Regions from separate parts of the Homo sapiens genome. Here region 1 is linked to region 2. The links come from fine-mapping of genetic effects on gene expression. A gene starts in region 2. The other region holds a variant in brackets. All regions are shown on one strand. Distances are between the middles of the regions.

What was found.
Region 1: its variant is fine-mapped to the expression of SNHG4 in monocytes after Pam3CSK4 (Quach 2016, PIP 0.95).

What each region holds. Positions count from the first base shown.
Region 1 is chr5:138,539,057-138,543,443 of GRCh38, forward strand. ETF1 (eukaryotic translation termination factor 1) reads right to left here and starts at 4,180. Exons shown (of 11, transcript NM_004730.4): 1 at 4,041-4,180; 2 at 3,777-3,880. The coding sequence starts at 3,862. RefSeq lists enhancers at 3,691-4,387, 3,832-4,387, 4,341-4,387 and a silencer at 4,001-4,050. The variant T/TG (reference allele first, on the strand shown) is at 2,709.
Region 2 is chr5:139,271,655-139,276,041 of GRCh38, forward strand. It overlaps SNHG4 (small nucleolar RNA host gene 4), which reads left to right and starts at 2,447. Exons shown (of 7, transcript NR_182757.1): 1 at 2,447-2,507; 2 at 2,710-2,960. It overlaps LOC124901081 (a long non-coding RNA gene), which reads right to left. Exons shown (of 4, transcript XR_007058956.1): 4 at 1,413-2,000. It also overlaps a transcript of MATR3 not described here. RefSeq lists an enhancer at 1,801-2,150 and a silencer at 2,441-2,520.

The DNA of each region.
Region 1 (4,387 bases), 730 kb before region 2:
CACTGACCTTCAAACAAGGGTTATGGTTATGAGGGTTATCTGACCAAGTGTTCATTGGATAAGAAACACATAAGGTTTCCTAGTGAAGATAAGTGAAGACATTTTAACACCCACAGACACAACCTAACCCAAATTAACACTGTCCATTCCTTTGTCACATTCACCACTGTCCCTGGCTAGCACAGGCTCTAGTTATGATTTTATTAACATTACCTTAAAACTATAAGGTGTCCAACATTATTTCTGAGGCCACCTCTTGCCTGCTCAGAAAACACCAAGGGAAAAAACAACCAATAATTCTCCCCCTTTTTCCAACATACGTTGACCTGTTTTAGTTCCTTATTCAAGATACCCTCAACCACAGTATTGGTTTATGTATACATTTGTCCTTCATAAGCCAACTGTGGAGCATATACCAGGAGCAATCATGAACAGGGAAGAACTACCATCAACTTTAAGTGGGGCCTATGTCTACCAAAATAATTAACTGGTTATTTTACTAGCACACACAAACTAACATTCGACCAGGCTTATCTGAAACCAAATAAGCATGTTCTACCCAAATCAAAAATCAAGTTTATGTGTGACACTCCTTTCAACTCAGAAGATTAAGTATGATGCTGGTTACAAAACAGAATGCTATGAAGTTCCCCATTTTAGTAATGTGGCCTCTATAAATGCTCTTCTACACACGTGTAACATAAAATAGAATCTGTTATAGCTCAGACTACATTTTAAGGAAATCTAGTTTTGTATTTTCTGAAAATAAAATATACCCATTATAGCACATTGGTTTAAGTTCTGAACTCTGCTACATTTTTGCTGTGACATCTTGGACAAATTATCTCTTAGCCTCAGGTGCCTTGTCTACCAAATGGTGGCAATACTTGTGAGGATTAAATGACTTAATAATGTACTGTAGCACAGTCTATAATATAGTATGTGCTTAATAAATTATTTTGCCAACATACTTCCCTTTATTCAGATGTAGTTAGTGAGCCCATTTTGCAGGTGGTTCCTTTTTCAAGCTACATTAAATTTGGGTCATATATCAAGAGATAACCACATAGGATTATCTTAATTTCAAAATCACTCTTATTCTAGCATATTTTAATAACTACTGTTAAAAACAAATCCATGATTCCTATGCCTAGAATTCTACACTGCTAAGGGGAGGAAAGGGCTTTTTCATTTCCAAAACAATACTGTTACTCAACCACTAAGTCTCACTACCTTGTCCTAATAACCATGCCTGAAAACCTCAGTTTCCTCCTGAAAACCAGAGTATCCCCAAAACATCAGCAAATACAGATTCATTTTGCCATCCACTTAAGTCTTTAAAGCCCATTACAATTCTTCTAAAGATATTTTATCACTAGGTAAAGTAGGAATAACATTTTCCACTGTACCCTATCTATGAAAATCTAGAGTCTGACTTTAACACAAGTTGGCAATGAAAATATTCCCACCTCCAAAAACTGGTATATACTGGGGAATCTTCTGACTCCCTTACCAATACTCAGAGATGGCCAAGATTTTAAATTTCCATGGGATCAAGATGCAACCAAATCCTGATTAAAAGCAAAGTAGGACATGATTATTAACCACAATGTGTAGCGGAAGGTCCTCCAGCTATTTTAGACAGCTTAATCATGTCTGAAATATCCAAACTCAACAACTTGAAATACAAGTTGTGTCTTATAACTTCATTTTTAGCATGCTTTAAACTTTACTGAACTTTGCTAAACAAAGAGGTAAAGCCTTCAAAAGCCTTAAAGAGGCGCTTAAAAGTTTCTAGTGGCTAGGTAACATGGGTAGAACAAATTTAAGAATGAGTTTCCTTCATTAAGCAGTAGAAAGGAATGCTGTTACTTATTAAGCAATGTCATCTTCAATGTTACTTCATTCAAACAGGCAAATTATAGTCATGATTTAATTTTTTGGACTGTTTCAGAGAATATAACGTATGCAAATTAAAATGTGTAAACCTGCCTGCTACTGAAAGCAGTAAGAACAAATCCAGAGGTCACATCCACCTATATACAATACTGCAACAACAGCAATCTATAAAATGCAATACTGGATTGAAGGCTTCAAGTAACAAAACAAGATCCTACTGAAACAAAAGAACCTGGCTAATTCTTGGTAGTGCAACATAATGGGTCGTGACCTATGTTACCCTTTCTGTACAGTATTCTCACATTTTGGGAATAACTGGTCACTCTATCATACGGCACAAGTTCCTGTAAGATCATTAAGAAGGTCTGGATATTCTATTGAATTCAAAGAAAAACCTAAGGACTAACAAGCCGCTGTCTTCGATTCATATTAAACTAACGTTTCTCCAGTAAACCGAAGGAGTGAGCACAAGCCCGTCACTGAATGGGGCCAAACTTTTAGAAGCCTCATTCCAAACAGAACTGTCCCTAATTTATTAAGAACAAAACACTAGTAAAACCAACCTGTGAATTGGGCCTTCAGTACAATTAAGCACATCCTGTTTCATATAACAGTAATAATGAAGAGCTTGGAGGGGCTGTCATTCTAAAATTGCAAATCTACCCATAAATGACAATCCTGGGCTGGAAACCAGAATGTCAAATTCTTGTGCTGAAATCAACTTTTCACATGGCCTGAGGCAGGCCATTCTACTATTCTAAGAATGCTCAGACATACAAGTATGTAATAATGTTCCAAACACTTTTTTT[T/TG]GGGGGGGGGGGCACTTCCTGTAAGTAAAAAGTTTCTATGACTGGGAAAGGAACAAAATAAAGTAATAAAAGAAACAGGAATACCCCTGGCACACCTTCCTCAAACGAACAACGTTAAAAAAAAAAGAAAACACACACACACAGCTAATTTTAATCTAGCCTACTCTCCCCCCAATGGACACACCTACAGTTTCTTATCAAAATGTACAAGACTCAAAGCCCATTTAATTCAATTATGAATCTCACTCAACAAGCATCAAGCACATCAGGCGCCTCTCTACAGCGATATCCCCACAAGTTTCAGAGAAATGCCAGCAGGGACTCTGTAGTTATGATTCCTATCAAACGGCCCCCTAACCCGTATTTCTCCTGGACATACACATGCAGATTCATTAACCAAAACCTACCCAGCACCCCTCACATCGCGCGTACGTTGGCATTTTCAGTTTATAGGTGGGTCCTGGAACAGCTAAAACCAGGAAGCTCCGGGGTAATTAGAGGACTTGGGAGAAGTCATCTTGGGACAGGTGGAAGACCCAGAGAAATCAGGAATCAGAAAGAAGCTGTCCCTGGCCACCTCTGCTTCCCGTCCCATCCAAACTTCACCCACCCGGGTCTCAGAAGCCCAGAAGGGAGAGGCCATTTTAATGAGGCCTGGCTGAGAAATGAAGGGAGAAGAGGAAATCAGGGAAGGGCCCTGGGAAAGGAAGGCCGAACACTTTGCCACAATAGCACCCGAGTCGGGTGGCAGCACCTGGAGCCCGAAGAGGGAGGACCTGGACTTAAGGGCCCGGGAGAGGTGCAAAAGTAGCGGTGGCCTACCACGAGGGGGGCCGAGTGATCTAAACCGGGGAGCGCGGGCCCCTTACCCCCATGCGGGGAAAGGACCCCTTCTCGGGCCAACCGCGCCGACCCTCGCCCCTGGGTCAGGGGCTACTACCCAGAGATCCAGAAGGCGGGAGTTGGCTAGTGCCTGGTTCTCCTCATCCGGCCATGCGGCGCGGGGGCGTCCATCCTGAGGGGTCCGGGAACCAAGAGGGCACGGAGGGTGCCGGACGCGGCGCTCACCCGCGGGCCGCCTCCAAGCTCTTAATGAGCTTCTTGATCTTCCAGATCTCCACGTTCCTGTCGGCAGCACTGGGGTCGTCCGCCATCTTCTCGCCTCCTCCTCCCTAGAGCGGCCCGGCGGGGCCCGGAGACACCAAGACCACAGAGTTAGCGCCGCCGCTGGGGCAGAGCGGCCCCCTTCCTCGCCATCCCCCAGAGGCCCTCTCCTCCCGTCCGGTGCAGCTCGCCACAAAGGTCACCGGCCTTTCCCTCCCTGTGCCTTACCTAAGGGCCCAGTCCTGGGCGGCAGCGGCTGCTCCTCCCCGGCGGCGGCTCCGCGGCGGCGGCGGCTCTGACGTAGGACACCGGCTCCCTCTCTCCAGGCAGCTGCATGTGTTGCAATCCGCTCACATGGGGCCTGTGACATCACTTCCTCCGCCAGGGGCGGAGTGGAAGGCGGCAGGCGGAAGGGAGGGGGCCGGTGCGAGTGAGGAGAAGCTGGGCGTCCGCCGCGACTTCTCATTGGCTCTCTGCCCCGCAGCCTACAATGAGCCCGCCGATTGGCTGCAGCTGGGTCCGCGCCGCCTTGTGAGGTAAGGCTGGGGGGTGGGAGGTGCCACCTTTCTTCCGGC
Region 2 (4,387 bases):
AGAGAATACAGCTATCTCTAGTACTCTTCCTGACCCCCTAGGCTATGTTAGCTGCCCCCAGACATGTGACCAAGTATACATATAGTACTTGTCATTCTTCTCCTCTAGACTGTAAGCTTTAGGCAGGCAGGAATCTCTATTGTTCTGACTTTATCTGCAGCATCTGAACAGAGTCTGGCACATGATAGATGTTTCGTAAATGTTGATTGACTGAGTGACTGACTAACTGAACAAATGACTAGATATTTCTCTACTGGTGGTTTTTCTCCCTGTTCAGGGAGAAAGAAAAAGAGCAGTCTTAGAGGCAGAAAGCATCAAGGAGGGAAGCAGGAATGAGAGGAGAGATGGAGGATAAAGAGAAAGGCAGGGAAGAAGCTTGGGGACCTGGTGTCACTTGAGGTCAGCTTTAAGTTATGAGGTCAAACTCAGAGCTAATGGACTTCCCCTAGTCCTTTGCTTTCCATCTAGCTGCATCTTTTTTTCTAGAAATGTTCCCTTTTATTTTTTGTTATTATTCTCAATAATTTTGTCTTTGCAAGAAGAAACAAAAAAGTAGAAAAATAGTTGATATTACAGGTAAAAAAAACATAAATCAACCCATCAAAATTAATTCAGAATTTAAAAGGATGGAAGTCAAAAAGGTTGACTATGAAGGATTTTTAAGTTGGAAACAAAATCTTCATCTAGGTTTTTCTCCAAAGGTCATTGAAAGACCTATAGCCCAAAAAGTTGACCACTTGTTCAACAGGACATGAAAATATGGCTTACCTCACAGCCTTATTTATAATGGCTGGCCTTCCACATAAATCCTGCCTTCTACCTGGACTAATCTGAATCCAGTCATCACCAGATTATTGGTCCCTCTCTCCCCAAAGGTCTGCATAGCTCCCTGTCCTCAGTTACTTCTTGTCTCTTCTCTGAAAGCACACATGCACATTCACACACACACATACACACACACACACACACACACACACACACCCTATCTTTCCTTTTCATGAATCTTCAGGGTAGCTCTGCCCTCTCCACTTTGTGTGTTTGGAAGGAAAGAAAGCGAAATATATGAGATGCCAATGCAATTTCTCCTTTAGCAGAGCTCGGTAGGACAATTACCCACCCAATCTGCCTGGTTTTATAGCTCTCATAACCTTCCTTTATGAACACGCTGTGACAGCCGGATGTGGGCATTGATTATGGCAGCAGTCTTCAGCCACATTCCTATTTAACTGCAAAGCAGAGCTCCTGCCTACCAGCCCAGCACTGGTCATGTGACTTTTTAAATTACTGTATTTATGTAAGCCTTTTCCCAACCAGAGCCTATGTCCAACTGCATCAAAACTGGGGAGGATTTGAGCTTGCCACTTCCCCTCCAGTGGCTCTTTGGCCCTACAGCCTAGGGTCTCTTGCTGGAATCAAACTGGGGCTCTGGGCTTTCTTAGGAGAGGTCTGCAAGAGTTGGGGTGCACAAGAAGCATACCTTTTTCATTATGAAAGAGCTGAGGAAATAGACAATGAAACATGTTGGCAGATGCCAAGGGCAGTGGCTTGGTTCCCAGGGGTTCACCTGGCAATGGTGCCAGGTGCAAGAGATCAGCAAAACTTACAGGATTGGTTGTTGTTGTTGGGGGGCGGGTGTCGGAAAGGAATTTGGGGGAATTAGAGAATGGAGTTGGGAATCACTGCTTGTAGGCCTTCCACTCTGGACCCCAGCAGAATCATATGGACTCTAGCCACTGGGAGAGGGAAGTTTTAGTGTTCCAAAGAAATCCTGGTAGCCTTGCAGGCAGTCTGTCCTGACCAAGGACTCTGCCTGACTGTGCCATGGTGCAGGGCAAGTCTAGCAGAGAAAGCCAGTGTTCTTCAGTTACTGCAGCTCGGCGAAGAATCCCACTGCAGGGCACTAGGGAGGCCGGTCCTGCAGAGGTCAGCAGTAGGAGTGACTGGCTTAATCTATTCGAAAACCTCCTGGAAAGATCCCGAAGACCGTGGACCAAGGTGACCTGCGTGGGTGAGCGATCCATTAGCCGAATGACAGCGCTGCCGCAGAAAGCCAGAAAAAGGATATGCGTGGGAAGCGCAAAAGCGTGGGCTGGGCCTGCAGCAACGGAAAGGCGCCACGCTCGTGAGCGGAACCAGCGTTCCGGGGGCGCTCAGTGTGGGCAGGCAGGAAGCCTGGCTCCACTAGGACACACAGATTCTCTCCTGAGCAGCTGCGAACTATGCGCCCCTTCTACCCTTAAGAGATGGGATGGGAGTCCAACAAACCCAGCCATTGCTCAGACCCCAGCCCTTCTCTCCTCTAAGAAGCAGGTTCACCTCTGCCACCGCACTCGCATTTTTTTTTTTTTTTAAAGCCCGGCCTTTCCTAGGCGGGGTCAAGGGCCCCGCCCACCGAAGCCACGCCCAGTAGCCGCCCCGGGGCGGGGTTCCCCTCGGCTCCCGGCTGCCCTTTCCCCTCCGGCCTCTGCCGGTGCTGCTGCGCCCTGCGGAGCTCCGAACACGTGCGCGTGAGTAAGGACCCAGAGGGGAGAGTCCTTGGAGGTTTCCCAGCCTGGGGAAAGAAGCAGTGCAGGGTGGCTTCTGCCGGGGCACGGGACGAAATTGGGGTTCGTCCCCTCGTGATCCCGAGCTTGGAGGGCATCTGAAAGAGACTTGGGCCTCGGAGTCGTCCCCTGTTTTTCTACCATCCCTCTTCCCTCTTCTCCCTAGGGAGTCCCATAGAGCCTGACTCCGAGAGCCTCGATCTCCCAGGGCCAGAGGCAGGGACTTTGGAAGGTTTGTGAGGAACAAATGTCCGGTGGAACTGAGTCAGCCCCTTTAACCCGAGCCTTGAAAGGGGCAGGCTATTTTTAGATCTGTTTTTAGACCCAGCGAACAATGAACCCTCTCTACTCATTTTCCTGTTCCTCTAAATTATTTGGAGGAAGTCAGGAGTGAAATTTGGGGATGGCTGGAAAAAGGTATGATCTTAGCCTTACATAAATTATAATGGTGACTGTGAGGCCGGGCGCGTGGCTCACGCCTGTAATCTCAGCACTTTGGGAGGCCGAGGCGGGCGGATGACGAGGTCAAGAGAAGAAGACCATCCTGGCCAACATGGTGAAACCCCGTCTCTACTAAAAATACAAAACTTAGCTGGGCGTGGTGTCGCACGCCTGAAGTCGGGAGGCTGAGGCAGGAGAATCGCTTGAACCCGGGAGGCAGAGATTGCAGTGAGCCGAGATAGCACCACTGCATTCCAACCTGGTAACAGAGCAAGACTCCGTCTAAAAAAAAATGGTGACTGTGTAGGAATATTTATTATCATTTGTGCAAACATTTTGGTTATTTTTATTTTTTTTAACGGAGTCTTGCTCTGTTGCCCAGGCTGGAGTGCAGTAGGGCGATCTCGGCTCACTGCAACCTCCGCCTCCTGGGTTCATGCCATTCTCCTGCCTCAGCATCCCGAGTAACAGGGACTACAGGTGCCCGCCACCACGCCCGGCTAATTTTTTTTTTTTTTTTTTTTTTTTTTTTGTATTTTTAGTAGAGACGGGGTTTCACCGTGTTAGCCAGTATGGTCTCGATCTCCTGAACTCGTGATCCGCCAGCCTCAGCCTCCCAAAGTGCTGGGATTACAGGCGTGAGCCACCGCGCCCGGCCTAACATTTTCGTTATTGCTTTTAATCAGTAGTTGAGGTCTTGGCACGACTACTGCCTCCAATTCCCCTCACATCCAATACTGCAGTTATTTTTCCAAGTGCTGTTTTTATTGTCCTTCAGGAAGTATTGGAGGCCCTCCTCTATCCAGTGTTCCCACTGTTCACTGCCCGTTTCTCTCACTGGATAACTTTTCCCTTTTTACTCACTCATATTCACCATCTAAGCCTTTTTTGGAATGTAGCTCCTCAGGTGTTTACTGAGTGCCCACACTATACCAGACATTATCCTGAGGATTAGCTTATATTTCACTTAAGCCTCCCAACCACCCTATTTACAGAGGACTATTAGTAATATCCCCATTCAGCTTGGTGTGCTCGCTCACGCCTGTAGTCCCAGCTACTCAGGAGGCTGAGGTAGGAGAATCACTTGAGCCCAGGAAGTGGAGGCTGCAGTGAGCCATGATTGTGCCACTGCACTCCAGCCTGGGTGGCAGAGAAAGACCCTGTAATATAATACCTCCATTCTACAAATGAGACTGAGGTATAGAGAGGTTTCTCGCCCAGTATCATTTGGCTAGACACTGGTTAGGGGATAGAGCCAGGCTCCCTGATATTTGTTTAATCGACTCTTTTGCTACTATTGAACTGCTGTGGTGTATAAGTAACAAGAGATGAAAACAAAGCTAAACAAGGATAAGCTATTGGTTTTATTGTCTGCTATTGTTTCTGTGGCTTAGGCCTAAGTT